Regions from separate parts of the Homo sapiens genome. Here all the other regions are linked to region 1. Evidence: fine-mapped expression QTL. A gene starts in region 1. Each other region holds a variant in brackets. All regions are shown on one strand. Distances are between the middles of the regions.

What was found. PIP is the estimated chance that this variant, and not a neighbour inherited with it, causes the effect.
Region 2: its variant is the best candidate, but not a certain one, in a credible set for the expression of A2M-AS1 in testis (GTEx, PIP 0.57).
Region 3: its variant is the best candidate, but not a certain one, in a credible set for the expression of A2M-AS1 in tibial nerve (GTEx, PIP 0.54).

What each region holds. Positions count from the first base shown.
Region 1 is chr12:9,062,210-9,067,440 of GRCh38, forward strand. It overlaps A2M-AS1 (A2M antisense RNA 1), which reads left to right and starts at 2,968. Exons shown (of 2, transcript NR_137425.1): 1 at 2,968-3,019; 2 at 3,617-5,231. It overlaps LINC00612 (long intergenic non-protein coding RNA 612), which reads right to left and starts at 2,861. Exons shown (of 3, transcript NR_034140.1): 1 at 2,059-2,861. It also overlaps a transcript of KLRG1 not described here. RefSeq lists silencers at 2,197-2,246, 2,307-2,356.
Region 2 is chr12:9,108,221-9,113,451 of GRCh38, forward strand. A2M (alpha-2-macroglobulin) reads right to left here. Exons shown (of 36, transcript NM_000014.6): 2 at 5,140-5,231; 3 at 4,157-4,316; 4 at 3,939-3,991; 5 at 2,094-2,114; 6 at 1,647-1,815; 7 at 1,101-1,185. It also overlaps a transcript of KLRG1 not described here. Among named protein-coding and RNA genes, the nearest start is that of A2M, 5.1 kb to the right of the region's middle. The variant A/G (reference allele first, on the strand shown) is at 2,415.
Region 3 is chr12:8,901,038-8,906,268 of GRCh38, forward strand. No RefSeq gene overlaps it. Among named protein-coding and RNA genes, the nearest start is that of PHC1, 11 kb to the right of the region's middle. RefSeq lists an enhancer at 3,939-4,595. The variant A/C (reference allele first, on the strand shown) is at 2,038.

The DNA.
Region 1 (5,231 bases):
AAAAAATCACCTGACACAATAGATGGATAATGTATCTGATATATTTATATATTGTATAAAAAATCACCTGACACAATAGATGGATAATATATCTGATATATTTGTATATTGTATAAAAAATCACCTGACACAATAGATGGATAATATATCTGATATATTTATATATTGTATAAAAAATCACCTGACACAATAGATGGATAATGTATCTGATATATTTATATATTGTATAAAAAATCACCTGACACAATAGATGGATAATATATCTGATATATTTATATATTGTATAAAGAATCACCTGACACAATAGATGGATAATATATCTGATATGTTTATATCAGATATATTATACATTTATATATTATACATATACATTTATATATATACATAATAAATACATTGTATTATACATATATGTATATATTATACATATACATTTATATGTATAATATAGTTGACATATTTATATATTTATATCGGATATATTGTACATTTATAATATATTTATTATATTTTATATTATAGTATATTATCATTTATAATATATTGTTATATGTTATATGATATATATTTATAGCAGACATAGTAAATATCTATTGTGTTAGGTGATTTTTTATACAATATATAAATATATCAGATATATTATACATTTAAACAGTTAAACACCTAAACAGCCCAATTTTATGTGGATCAGTACTACTAACGGCTTAGGGTAAAATGACAGCTACAGCATAACTAGAATGTTAAAGTGGCATGTCTCAGACAACGTGGATGGACATAAAGTATTTGAGAGAATATTGCATAATAGAAAAAAACATTGTAAAGACTAAAATACTAAATAAGACCTTTTTTTCCCGAGCAATAATTTGCCCAGGCTGGTCTCAAACTCTTGGCCTCAAATGATCCTCCTGCCTTGGCCTCCTAAAGCATTGGGATTATAGGCATGAACCACTGCTCCTGGCCAGAATTCTTGATTAAACAATAGGGTCTAAATAAATTTAAACCCCTTTTATTCTTTTTATTCTTACAGGGTAGACTCAAATATTCTATTTCTTTCCAACTTTATATTCTTGTCATAACAACCCAGTATTCTCTGAGGCAAATGGATGCTTATGACCAACTGGCCTGAAATGGGGGAATATAGGGTTAGTGGTGAGTCACATATAAGAAAATGCAAGAGAATAGCAGTGTATCATATTTCAAAATAAAATACAAACTATACATAAAACTGACCCCAACAAGTATCCATTTCATTTCCTGTCGTGTATCTATATGCTTTCCTGGAAAGAATAAACTTCAGTTCACAAAATCAGATGTAGAAGATACATCACTTTTAAAAATTCTACGTAATTTTAATTCCAAGATTCCCATGCCACCAGGCTGGTGGGAAATCCAGTTTAAGTTGTAATTAGGCCTTTTCTCCAGTATTACATATGAATTTGAGTGTAATACCCCAAAACTTGAGAAGGCCATTGTATCTCCAGTCCACTGGGGCAATGAATAGCTTGAGCACCTGATCATTATAATGACCCAGATGTGTATCTTTTTCTTTTACTCTGCGGTGAGTTTTTCTAAGGGAGGAATCCTATTTTGTTTAATTTTGTATTATAGCATGGGATATTGTGCCTGGCAGATAGTAGGCAATCAGTTAGTATTTCAGGAATAAACACTCTTGGTCAGTGATACAGCTAATGATTTGCAACAAGCATATCCTTAAAGTACCTTTTCAGTAACGATTTCCATATGAACAAAGAAAAAAACTAGAACCAAGAGGTAAAATTATAATCCTGTTGTCTTGTTCCCATAGCCATACTCTGATTTCTTTTATGTTCTGTGCCCTGGCTTGATACTTAATTTGACAGCTAATTATAATGTTTATTAAGCTCTGAAATATACTTTCTCCTGGCCTTTTTGTCTGAAGTTGTTTGAGGTGTCACCATGGTTGGAAGTTAAGAGCATGGAAGCTAGACTTCTTGGTCTTGAATTCTAGCTTTGTCACTAACTTAGTAACTTTGGGCAAATTACATGTCTCTGCTTCAATTTCATTTGTTAAGGTAGTACCTATTTCACAAGGCTGATGGTGGCAGCAGTGGGGCGTCCAGAGCTGCCGCTGCCATCACGCCAGCTGCAGCAGGGAGGGGCGGGCAGCGGCGGCGGAGCAGCTGCGGGAGCCGCAGTGGCTGCTGTGGGACATCTGTGCCTCGCGTCCCCTGTGCCTTGAGACCCCAAAGCAGCCGACTGCGCCGCCACCATCCTCGCGTTGCCGGGTGGGGCGACGTGCTCCCCGGCCAGGAGCCTCCACCGCTCCGGACCCTGGCCCTATGTCGCCGCTCTCGCCCGCCGCCGCCGCGGAGTGGGAGTGGGGAGGAGGGGAACAGTCCTTGGAGCCGGCCCCGGGAGTACTCCCGGAGCCTGCCGCCCTGGAAGCCGCCACGATGGACCGGGCTGAGTCGCCCGCCGGAGGGGAAGCAGTGTAGTCGGGCACGGAGGGGCAGGCAGAGAGGGGCCCCAAGGCGGAGCTGGGTCCGGGGCGGAGCGGTGTTCGCACACAAAGCGCTGGGGCTGGACCCAGGGTTCGGGGCCAAGGCGAGAAGTGGGAGCGGGGCCCGCTTTGGGGACCCGGACAGCGGTGTGGCCACCGCGCACACCTCCGACAGCGCCGCATTCCTGGGCCTTGGGAGGAGGCTCTGAGTAGGGCCGCCTGGGGCGCGTCTTCAGGGTCCTCCCGGCACTGGGGTGACCGCCGAGCTAGACGCGCCTGAGGGCTGAGCCCCAGGGCTCGTGATCTGCTCCCGGAGGCGCCCCCCAGGCAGGGCCGTGAGCCGGGCGAGGGAGAGTCCTGGGCTGCCCCTGAGCCCCGGGGCCACGGGAAGAACTTGCAGCGACGTCATCCCTGCCCCGGACACAGTCCCGGGCCCAGGGAGGACCTGGAACATTCCCTTCCTCCCCCCCCCCCCCCCCGCCCCCGCCCATCAGCCCAGCCTGCAAGGAGGCGCCACCGGACCTGCACACTCAGGAGCAGGTGAGCCAGGGACAAGCAGGAGCCCCGCCCCTTCCGAACTGGTGGAGCAGGAGCTCCCAGGGTGCAGCTGCAGCCACCTTGCCGCGGCTGTGGACATTTTCTGTGCTCTCAGAGGCCCAGCAAAGTCCCCTGCCCACTGCAGGCTCCAGGGTGCCTACTCCGGCTGCCTGGCTTCTCTCCACTGTTAGCACCCACTCTGAACTCAGAGCAAGGTCGGGCCGAGCCTGGGTACTGTCACAGCCTGGCCGAGCGTGCACACGCTCAGGACAGTGCTGATACGCCAGCCCCCTGCCGTCTCGGCCCCCTTTGGAACTTGGGCACCAACAAGCGTGGGAGGGAGGCTGAGAGGGGTCTGAAGACAGCTGGACACTGACTTGCAGGCGCTCCTTGGCATGAACAGCCTGGGAGCAGGAGGCAGACAGGTTCCTGGGTGGAAGGGGATGGGTCCCCAGTGAAGTCCCACCCTCAAGCTGGTGAGGGCTTGAAGCCTGCAGACCAGAGAGGTAACTTGTGGTGCTGCTCCCTGGGCCCACTCATGGCTGCCCATGGACCAATCAGCATGCATTTCCTCCCTCTGAGGCTCATAAAATCCCCCAGACTCAGCTAGATTGGAAGAGAGGATGGGAAGACAATGGATGACCTACCTGTGGAGAGAAACTACCCATTCCAGAACCTCCTCTCTGCTGAAAGCTGAACACTCAATGGGAAGACCTGTTTGCAGAGAGGAGCCAGCCACTCCAGGGTCTCCGTTCTGCTAGAAGCTGAACACTCGTTGGGACACCCTTGCTGTGGAAAGGACATCCTTACTGTGGAAATGAGCTACTAACTGCAGGTCTCCTTCCTCTTCATCTTCCTTATCCTTCTGTTCCATTGCTCAGTAATGCTCCTCTTCATCTGTCTCATTCTCCACTTGTCTGCTTGATGCAGGAGCTGAGGAGCTGCACAGCAAGGTTAAAAGAGCTGTAACACAAACAGGGCTGCAACATGCCCCTTGCTCCCCACAGGGAGAGAAGAGCTCTGGCCCTCGGAGAAGCCCAGACCTGGGAGCTCCTTGAGCCCGGGCTGTGACTCCCTCTTTGGGGCCCTGGTTGGCGTCACTGCATTCGCCAGTGCCACTGTTGGAAGCTGCTTGTGATGCGCCTGGTCCAGGGGGAAGCTGTTTGTTGTGTGCCTGGTCCAGCCACCTCATGGAGAGCCTGTGCTGGCACCTGGAGCTGCCCAACCTGGGCAGCAGCTTGTGTGTGTGACTGCACAGTGGCCACGCTTGCTCACACACCCCTAGCACACCCCTCTGCTCCACCCGTCTCAATCTCCCTTGGATCCGGGATCCAGGTTGGTAGCAAGTGCGAGTGGGCAGAAGCAGCCCAGTGGGCCCAGAGCAAAACTCAGGCAAAGGTGCCACTAGACTGGCCAGGAAAGCGACACCCTAAAGATCCCATAATGCTGATATGTTAATTCTATTCTATAAGCACCACACAGAAGTGATAGCTTTTATTTCTTATTTTGTCTAGCCTGGAGACAGAGCTAAGGATTCCTTGAACTGCAAAGTCTTTTCCAGTTCTTAGTTTATACAATCCATACTCACCTTCTGCCTAACTAAGCATTGTCATTTTTGTGCCAAATGAAGAGTAGGACTCCTACGATTGTCCTCAGACTCTCTTGGCTCAATCCTCCTGCTTTAACCTTTCCTACTTCAAAAACTCCTGAAGTTTTGCTTCCCCTTCTATAGAATGGAAATATATGTCGCAATACTTACTGCAAAGAAAATTATATATTTTAAAAATAGACTAAAGAGATGTTGTGAGACATCAGACATCAATCAGATGTTGTGAGAACTGATTTCTGCATCAGAATATCTCCTTGACTTTACAGCTATCCTTTAATCCTGGCTCAAAGTTCCAGAAGAAAGATGATCCAATATAATACTCCTATTTGGACTTTGAGTCATACACATTCCTTCTTCTGAGAAAACGTGCTTCTGCATGAATCCTCCCTTCATTATTTTCAGCTCATCTATTATTGAATCTGAAACCCCAGGTTAACTGACTGATCACTCTCATCAGTGGCAGATTTTGGTGTAACATAGGACACATCACTCCCAATTCAGGTCAAGTCCCAATTATCTTGCCTCTCAATATGACATGTTCAATGTTGTATTTCATTCTACTTCATTTTAATGTAAAAAGTCTTTTCTGGTGAAGTCAGTCTTTTA
Region 2 (5,231 bases), 46 kb after region 1:
GTTCATGCCATTCTCCTGCCTCAGCTTCCCAAGTAGCTGGGACTACAGGCGCTGGCCACCATGCCTGGCTAATTTTTTGTATTTTTTAGTAGAGACGGGGTTTCACCATGTTAGCCAGGATGGTCTTGATCTCCTGACCTCGTGATCTGCCCACCTCAGCCTCCCAAAGTGCTGGGATTACAGGCGTGAGCCACCACGCCGGGCCTGTTTACTTTTTTACAAAAGTGGGATTGTGTCGTAAATATGTCATAGACAATTGCTGGGTTTCCAAGTGCATTTGTCTCCTTTCCTATTTGAGAATGTCCTCTGTATGTCTATTTGCAAGATCACACCAGTTATGAGGAACCAGGAACTTGGCCATCACTGTGAGACAGAACTGGAGCAGGGGCCTAGCTGAATAGTAGGTGTATTACATGTGTGATCTTTGGACAGGACTATACCTGCTCTTCCTGCTACTGCTACTGTGTGCCACCATGGATGGGAACATAAGATCCAGGAAACAAGACTTTTCAAGGTTGGAACAGACTGTCTTGAGAAATCACGTTCAGTCTCTTCGTAAAAATGTCAGTGCAGACAGGTATGTAGACCCGCCTTAGGTGGACTAGTGAGTTAGATGAGATTTCAGTTGTATGCCTATCTCTACAAATTCTGAATCTAAGTGATTTTTCCAGTAAGCATGCAAGGTCAGGTAAATGATCTGTTGATGATTGAATTTCCCCTATAGCCATGTGTTAATTATCTCCCTAATATACGTTTGGTTATTTTTGGTTAAGGCAGAACCAATACCCTTCAACACTATCCACCCTTCCCATTTTGTGTGTGTGTGTGTGTGCAGTTTTGTCACTTTCAGAATCAATCCTATTAGCATAACCTCTCTAGAAACAGTTTCTTACCTCATGATAGAATAATACTGATAAGAACGTGAAAGAAAATAAAAATAGAAAAGCAACAGGAGAATAACATTCTACAGATGAGGATGCTGTCAAAGCACTTAAAATTTTTGTGTTGCCACTGCTCCCGGAGAGAGTAGTTAAAATATCCCAAATGGTGAGTCTCTTTTAAATAATCCCCCACAAAAGATTTTTAAAAAATGAACTCACAGGCCACACACTGATACATTCATCTCTTCTTCCAAGATGGTGATTATCTTTGGCACTGTTACTTGTACTTCAAACTTGGGAAGAACTGTTGATTGGTGATAAAGAAGGTTGGTGATTGGTTTTCAACTTTGGGGGAATTCCTATTTTCAGGTTCCCTGTAACAGTTCCCTAATAATATTTTAGGGCTCTGAAAAGGTAGCTCTGCTCTCCAATCTATTCTTATCTATCCTCCTCTCAAATGAAGATTTCAGTTGAGGGACTATGAGAGATCACTGTGTGCTTAATTAATTATGGAAAACTCCATTAAAACAAGAATGTTTTAATTTTGGGGGTTGGTATTAAATATTGCTACAGAAAATAACGAAGCTATGTGAAGTCCTATTCACAGATCACTGATGTCCTCATTGGACTTAGGTGTAATTAATTCTACTCCAAGCCCAATGTCACCCATGGGAAATGGAAAGACTCCAAATGAACTTAAATTCCAGGACCTAAGAGTTTAAATATGAAGAAAAATAATGCTTGATGACTTTTCATGATCCATACCAAATTCCTCCACGGTGAAAGGGTGCTCTGTCCTTCCACCTGATTTCTTCTGTACCACCACCTTGTAGGAGCCCTGGAAGGGCTCTGATGAGAGGGGAAAAGAAAATTGCTTGAGGCCACCCTCTAACTGGAAACTCTGCCATTGTGCGATGCGATTTCCTTTGGGATCCTATATGAGTAAATTAATTATAACTTACAAAAGCACCTGGAGCATTGGAGCTAATAAAAGATATCTATGGAAACCCTAAGTTATCTACAAAAAGGTCAAATGGGGTAGTAGTAAAGGGTGAGTAGAGGAGATGAGTTATAGCCATCTAGCTCTATGGGAGTTTGAAGGCTTCTCCTTTAATGACAAGTTTCTGAGATATTGTAAAAACCTCTGAAATAAGAACATTTTCCCTATATGTATTGCTTTCCTTTTAATATGGAATGTTTCATGTTGCTTACCTGAATGTATACTAGTGGAATCTGAAAGACAAAAGAAAAAAGAAGTTTATAATTATTTTCAAATATTCTTAAATCTCATTTATAAGCAAAGCAGCTAGTATTTGCTAGCATAACAGGGTGAGTATAGTAAAAAATAATTTAATTGTACATTTAAAAATAACTAAAAGTATAATTGGATTTGTTCGTAACACAAAGAATAAATGTTTGAGGGGATGGGTACTCCATTTATTGATACAGGCATGCAATGCATGATAATAATCATTATCCATGATTGGATAATGATATGGATAATGATAATGATTATCATCCATAATCATTATC[A/G]TGCACTGCATGCCTGTATCAAAATATCTCATGTAACCCATAAATATATATACCTGCTATGTTTCCACAAAAATTAAAAACAATAAAAAGTTTAAAAAATCTAAATTAGTTTCATATAGAATAATTCCCTCTATAGTGAAATACAGAAATATTCCAGATTAAATTTTATAGAACTTTTCATTAATCTATTTTAAGCAATTAATAAATAATGTTAAGAACTTACTAGGCCTTCAGCAACAAATATACATGTAAAGTGCCATTTACTAAAAATGGATTAACATGTCTTAAGTGCTTATAGCATCCTAGTGAAGATCAATCCTTTGCTATGCAATTTTACAGGTTGAGAAATAAACACTTATGTAACTATAAGTAAATATGTTCAGATGTAATCATTAAGATGGGTCATAGAATTCTTACGTAGTTCTAAGAATGAGGAGGAATGGACATATTTCATTAATAAATTTAGTTTAATAAATATTACTTTTAAAAATGAATAAACATTGATAAGAAGCTACTATGAATGTTTATTCATTTTTAAAAACTAATCTTTATTAAGTACCTTCTCATGCGCTGTGTATCATTCTAGGTATTGAGAATATAACCACGCACAAAAGAACAATAAACCATGTTTTAATGGAGCTTATGTTATAATAGAAATAGGCAGATTTTTAAAAATCAATACGTATAGAATGGTGGTAAGTGCAAATAGAAAAACAAAGCCAAGTTAGGCTGACAGAGTGATGGGTGTGGTGCCTCATTTTAGACAGAGGAGTGAAAGTAGAAGCTGGGAGACCACTTTGAAGGTTATTGTAATGATCTTATTTAGAGATGACATTGACTAGGACTAGCTTGCAGCAGTAGTTCAGATGATAAGAAATAGTCTGAATATATTTTAAGCCAACATGATTTTCCAGTGAAGTGGATGTGGGTATGAGAGAAAGAGAAACAAGAACTAGGCCATAATCTTTTGTCTTTGGAGCTAGAAGAGAAGAGTTGCCTCTTTTTGAGATAAGAAAATGTGAAGAAGTTAATTTGGGAGAGAAAAATGAAGACTTTGGGTTGATGTCTGCATTACAATAGAAAGAACTGTTTCTTATCACAGATACCAAGAGTTAGTCTTGAGGAACAAATTAATTACCCTGACTTTCCTTTATAGTGAAGATTTTGGTAGATGTGTATAGAAAAAATCTAAATCTTTAAAATGTTTTTTGAGCTTAGGTTCTTTGAGGATTTTTCTGTGTCTGCTATTGAATGTATCTTTCTAATTGTCCTAATTAAGAACCATCCGAAAAGTAAATTTAATTGTGTGACAACTGACTGAGTACCAGCACCAAGACAGAAAGAATTACCTACTTTCTTTACCTGGAATGATGTTTTAGATTAGGATCTTGTGCTGTTGTAATGCCAGAAGTTACTGTTAATGATACCAGATTCTTCCTCTCCCTGGTCTTCCCTCAGCACAAAAAACAGGTTCCCAGCCTGTTTATACAGACAATCATTTTATGTAGATAATAGAAAACTCACCAACTCATTCAGGGGGTGAAAGTTTTCATCCATGGAGACAACACGAAATTTCACTGAAACAGAAATATTTTTCATGAGCCCCCAAACCCAAAGTAGGCCTGTAGGCTGGTAAGACAAGCTATTAAGGAACCAAGATTATAGGAACTTTGCCTGGGGAACATCCAGGGGAAGAAGATCTTTCCTTTTTGAAGTTGTCCTGTCTGTAGGCTTCTTCATACCTGTCTGCCCTGGTTTGTAGATTGATTTGTCTGTCTGGACAAAGACCAGACTGTCCTCGTTCTTAACCATCACTGTGGTCCGCTTCTTAAATTCTTGGGTTGGTCCTTTCACTTGGACAGTGAGGAACATTACCTCCTCATTGGATGAAGACTTTGGGACCTGAAATACAGGACCGATCCTGAAACCCCATTCAGCACCCGCAGGTCTCCTCCCCTATTTGCTGTTGCACTCTTCCCTGGAGATCTTGCCCTTCTTACTTAACTTCACTCCCTTGTTCTCAGCAGGGAAAGTTGGCATGGACAGGAATCACTTCTGCCATTTTACAAATGGGGAGACAGGACACAAGGTGGAGGAAAATAAATCAGTAAGAGAGGTTGTAAGTGAGATTCACACCTTCATACAGCTCACAGAAACAGTCTTGATTCAATTATACGCTGAGCTTTACCAGGCTGATATTACATGCTAAAAGGGCATGGTCGAAGCATGTTTTACAGGCTATGGAAAAAAACCCCGTATTTTACTGACACTAGGCTGTAAGCATCTCACATGTGGACAACTCTGAAGAGATATTACACCTTTGCTCAGGGTAATTTCTACAATTTTTACTCTTAGAAGTAGTGTGGAGTGATGTGTTCCTGTCAGTCCACCACGGGTGGCTCATGTTGAGCCTTGGTCTAGTTTGCTTTATTAATATTTTTTCCATCTTAATTTTAAGAAGTCACATTTTCTTTTTTTTTTTTTCCTTTCTGGCTAATAGGGTTTCTATGTGATTATTAAGCTGACTTTTAGTTTGCCTGTAAATATTTGTCTCCCATGGCTGGAGAGTCATGCATTGCTCCTTAATTTCTATACTTAGTTTGCTACATTTGGATTCCTTCCTGCAGTTCTTACCAACCTCCCAAAGCCTCATCTGACAGAATACTAGATCCCTATGACCCTGACTAAAAGAACCAAGTATATTAAGTCAAACAGCCACACTCACAGCGAAGGCGACACAGTGGAGTACGTCATTCTCCGCCTCCAGGTCAGTGAAGAGGCTCCTGTTTCCCCTGACAGACTCCAAGGAAGCACTTA
Region 3 (5,231 bases), 160 kb before region 1:
TGTCAGTGGAACTACCATTCTGGGGTCTGGAGGACGGTGGCCCACTTCTCATAGCTCCATTAGGTGGTGTCCCAGTAAGGACTGTGTGGAGGCTCCAACCCCACATTTCCCTTCTGCACTGCCCTAGCAGAGGTTCTTCATGAGGGCCCCACCCCTGCAGCAAACTTTTGCCTGGGCATCCAGGCATTTCCATACATCTTCTGAAATCTAGGCGGAGGTTCCTAAACCTCAATTCTTTTTTTTTTTTTTTCGAGATGGAGAGTCGCTGTATCACCCAGGCTGGAGTGCAGTGGCGCGATCTCAGCTCACTGCAACCTCCGCCTCCCAGGTTCAAGCGATTCTTCTGTCTCAGCCTCCTGAGTAGCTGGGACTACAGGCATGTGCCACCACGCCCAGCTAATTTTTGTATTTGTAGTAGAGACAGGGTTTCACCATATTGGCCAGGCTGGTCTCGAACTCCTGACCTCATGATCTGCCTGCCTCGGCCTCCCAAAGCACTGGGATTACAGGCGTGAGCCACTGTGCCCGGCCCCCAAACCTCAATTCTTGACTTCTGTGCACCTGCAGGCTCAACACCACATGGAAGCTGCCAAGGCTTGGGGGTTCCACCCTCTGAAGCCACAGCCTGAGCTGTACGTTGGCCCCTTTCAGCCATGGCTGGAGTGGCTGGGACACAGTGCACCAAGTCCCTAGACTGCACACAGCATGGGGACCCTGCACCTGGCCCACGAAACCACTTTTTCCTCCTGGGCCTCTGGACCTGTGATGGGAGGGACTTCCGTGAAGGTCTCTGACATGGCCTGGAGACATTTTCCCCATGGTCTTGGGGATTAACATTAGGCTTCTTGCTACTTATGCAAGTTTCTGCAGCTGGCTTGGGTTTTTCTTTTCTATCACATAGTCAGGCTGCAAATTTTCCAAACTTTTATGCTCTGCTTCCCTTATAAAATTGAATGCCTTTAAGTGCACCCAAGTCACCTCTTGGATGCTTTGCTGTTTAGAAATTTCTTCTGTCAGATACCCTAAATCATCTCTCTGAAGTTCAAAATTCCACAGATCTCTAGGGCAGGGGCAAAATGCTGCCCATCTCTTTGCTAAAACATAACAAGAATCACCTTTGCTCCAGTTCCCAAAAAGTTCCTCATCTCCATCTGAGACGACTTCAGCATGGATTTTTTTTTTGTTTTTTGTTTTTTGAGATGGAGTTTCACTCTTGTTGCCCAGGCTGGAGTGAAATGGCACGATCTTGGCTCACCGCAACCTCCGCCTCCTGGATTCAAGTGATTCTCCTGCCTCAGCCTCCCAAGTAGCTGGGATTACAGGCATGTGCCACCACGCCCAGCTAATTTTGTATTTTTAGTAGAGACGGGGTTTCTTCATGTTGGTCAGGCTGGTCTTGAACTCCCGACCTCAGTGATCTGTCCACCTGGGCCTCCCGAAGTGCTGGGATTACAGGCGTGAGCCACTGCATCCGGCCTCAGCCTGGATTTTATTGCCTATATCGCTATCAGCATTTTGGGCAAAGCCGTTCAAGTCTCTAGGAAGTTCCAAACTTTCCCACATTTTCTTGTCTTCTCCTGAGCCCTTCAAACTGTTCCAATCTCTGCTTGTTACCCAGTTCCTAAGTCACTTCCAAATTTTCAGGTATCTTTTTCAGCAATGCCCCATTCTATTGGTATCAATTTACTGTATTAGTCTGTTTTCATGCTGCTGATAAACACATACCTGAGACTGGGAAGAAAAGGAAGTTTAATTGGACTTACAGTTTCACATGGCTGGGGAGGCCACAGAATCATGACCAGAGGCAAAAGGCACTCCTTATATGGCAGTGGAAGAGAAAATGAGGAAGAAGCAAAAGCGGAAACCCTTTATAAACCCATCAGATCTTGTGAGACTTATTCACTATCACGAGAATATCATGGGAAAGACGGGCCCCCGTGATTCAATTACTTCCCCTTGTGTCCCTCCCACAACAAGTGGGAATTCTGTTTTTTTTTTTTTGAAACGGAGTTTTGCTCTTGTTGCCCAGGCTGGAGC[A/C]ATCTTGGTTCACTGCAACCTCCACCTCCTGGGTTCAAGCAATTCCCCTTCCTCAGCCTCCCGAGTAGCTGGAATTACAGGCACCTGTCACCACGCCCTGCTAATTTTTTTTTTTTTTTTTTTTTTTTGGTATTTTTAGTAGAGATGGGGTTTCCCCATGTTGGCTGGGCTGGTCTCAAACTCCTGACCTCAGTTGATCCACCCACTTTGGCCTCCCAAAGTGTTGGGATTACAGGTTTGAGCCACCACGCCCAGCCCACACGTGGGAATTCTGGAAGATACAATGCAAGTTGAGATTTGGGTGGGGACACAGCTAAACCATCTCACTCACTCTGGTCCAGGCACACTCTGCTTGCTGTTCTAACACACCGGGCACACAATCCTCCACCTGGAGCAGATACACACATGCCCCCTCTCTTGTTCCCTTTACATCTCTTCATAAATGCCACTTTCTCTGTGAAGTCTTCCCTGACCACTCTGTTAAAATTCTAAGCCCCATCTTCCAATTCTCCTGACATTTTTCCATTAAAAAAATGTTCCCATAGCAGTTCTCATCATGCGAATTCCCATGGATTTTAGATTTTACTGATTTGTTTGTTTTCTCCCCCACTACAATGTGAACTCCATGAGGGTAAACATTTTGTCTGTTTTGTCTACTGATGGCCACCCATGACAGAAAAAAAAGTGACTGTCTTAGGGGAGGCCCTCAATGTATTTTTGTTGAATATTGAATAAATGGATGACTCAGATGTAGGGGGTGATCTAAAGAGAAGAGTCAAGAATGACTTCAACGTTTTTTGCTTGGGCAATTGGGATTGCCACTTTCCAAATCAGGGAAGTCTAAGGGAGGAGCAGGTTTGCTGAAGGTGTGATGACTGGCTATCTCCAGTGTCGTCAAGAAAAAGAACTGAGGCAGAGTGCACTGATGGGGTGATCCATTTTCTCGGACTCTGGCAACTCTAACAGTTTCCTTAGTCAGATTTACAGTTGCCACAGATATCCTCTGAAAGTTGGAAAAGGAAGAGGTTACCAGGTGTTCTTTCAGTTCAATACTGGGCTTGTGTCTTTGATTGATTCCCATCAATTCAGTCACTTCACAAGTCAGAAGAGGCAGAGATTAACTCATAGCTGCAACTGGCTGCTGTCTGGTGGTGGAAAGGATAATCCTGAAGGTTATGTTTCATGGTCCTATAGGACATTAACCACTTTTGTATCCAATACAGCAATCTCACTAACATTCCTTTGTTAAATTGCCTAGAAACACCCATGCTTCTCAAACGCACTTTGAACTGATTTTGATATCTTATAGATTCTTTCATTAATTAATAAGTTGTATAAAATCTTTGACGTGTTCGTTTTATATTTGCATGAGTTATGATTCTAGCTTTTTGAAAATTATATTTTAATATCACTTTTACAGAACTAAAATGCTGCCACTCAAAATGATACCTGAGTACTTACCCATTGATTAGTCCAACCCTGTGACAACATGAATTTCCCTGTTGCCAGCGCACTAATACAGTTGGCAACCGGCTAAACTTCAGGCAGCAGAGAACGTTCAGCTGCTTGCTGCTTTTTGAAAAATAAATAAAGGGCTTCAGATTATGCCACCCCAAAATATGTTGTTTTGGCATATTCATTTGAGCTGAAGACACTGGAGAAACAGCTGATGCAGGAAAAGCTCTCTGATTCTCCCTTTCTACCTGAAAGCAGGTCATACAATTTTCCATGAGAAACATGCCCTCTGTGTACAAGGAAGAGAACATTCTTATCACCATAGAAAGGGAACTGACACTGAAATAGATCTATGCAAATAGTCTTACTAAAATAACCTTTAACTTCCACTGGTTCCCCCTTTATATTTCCTAGTCACTGTCCCACAATTTACTGCCATTACACCAAGCCCCTTTGTTTTGTCACATCCCCATAATTTATAATTCTTTGTGTAAAAAGGTATACAGTAGTTCCTTGGTATCCACAGGGTATTGGTTCTAGTTGCCACCCCCTGCATATACAAAAATCTGAGGATGTTCTTATATAAAATGACATAGTATTTGCATACAAGTTATGCACATCTTCCTGTATACATTTTTTTTATCTTATTTTTTTTTGAGAGAGGGTCTTGCTGTCACCCAGGCTGGGTTGCAGTGGAGTGATCTTGGCTCACTGCAACTTCTGTTTCCTGGGTTCCCGTGATTCTTGTGCCTCAGCCTGTAGCTGGGATTGCAGGCGTGCATTATCACACCTGGCTAATTTTTGTATTTTTAGTAGAGGCGGGGTTTCACCAGTTGGCTAGGCTGGTCTTGAACTCCTGGCCTTAAGCAATCCACCTGCCTTGGCCTCCCAAAGTGCTGGGATTATAGGCATGAGTCACTGCACCTGGCCCTCCTGTATACTTCAAATCATCTCTAGATCACTTATACCTAATATAATGTAAATGCTGTGTAAGTTGTTGTTATAGTGAATTGGTTTTTTATAAATTTGTATTTTTTTCTTTCTTTCTTTCTTTCTTTTTTTTTTTTTTGAGACGGAGTTTCACTCTTGTTGCCCAGGCTGCAGTGCAATGGCACGATCTCACTCACCGCAACCTCTGCCTCACCGCAACCTCTGCCTCCCAGGTTCAAGCAATTGCCTCTTTGGGTCTTTTCTTTTTTTCTTGAGACAGTCTCTCTCCGTCATCCAGGCTGGAATGCAGTGGCGCTGTTAACGGTGGAAGGTATGCGGACAATTCTGAAGGCATTTCTATTTTTATTCTGCCAATAATTTTAAAGCTAGCTTGTTAAGTTACACTTTAAGTCACGTGAACTTGAAAATTGCTTAGACTTATTTACTTGATTTATGAGCGCACTTTTACTTATAAGCCAATTTGGTAGACACAACATATAACAGTAGGTGTACAAACAAATAAACACATCTAGACATGTATACACATACATCAACGAAGATCCAATACCTTGGAACCTTAGCCACGAGATAGCAATACAAGCTTGCGGTTTTACTTCAACCTAATAGAAAATACAAGGACGGCTCTGAACCAAAATTTCAGGTAAAGCAGCCTCCATGGCAGTTCGATATTGAAGGGCTAAAGCCTCCCAGCCTCCCTAGACTTCAAGGAGCACCGGGGCCAAACAGTACCAAAGGAGGGTGTCACATGTTAACCAGGCCCCCTGCTTAGAACAGCAGCACAAAAGCCT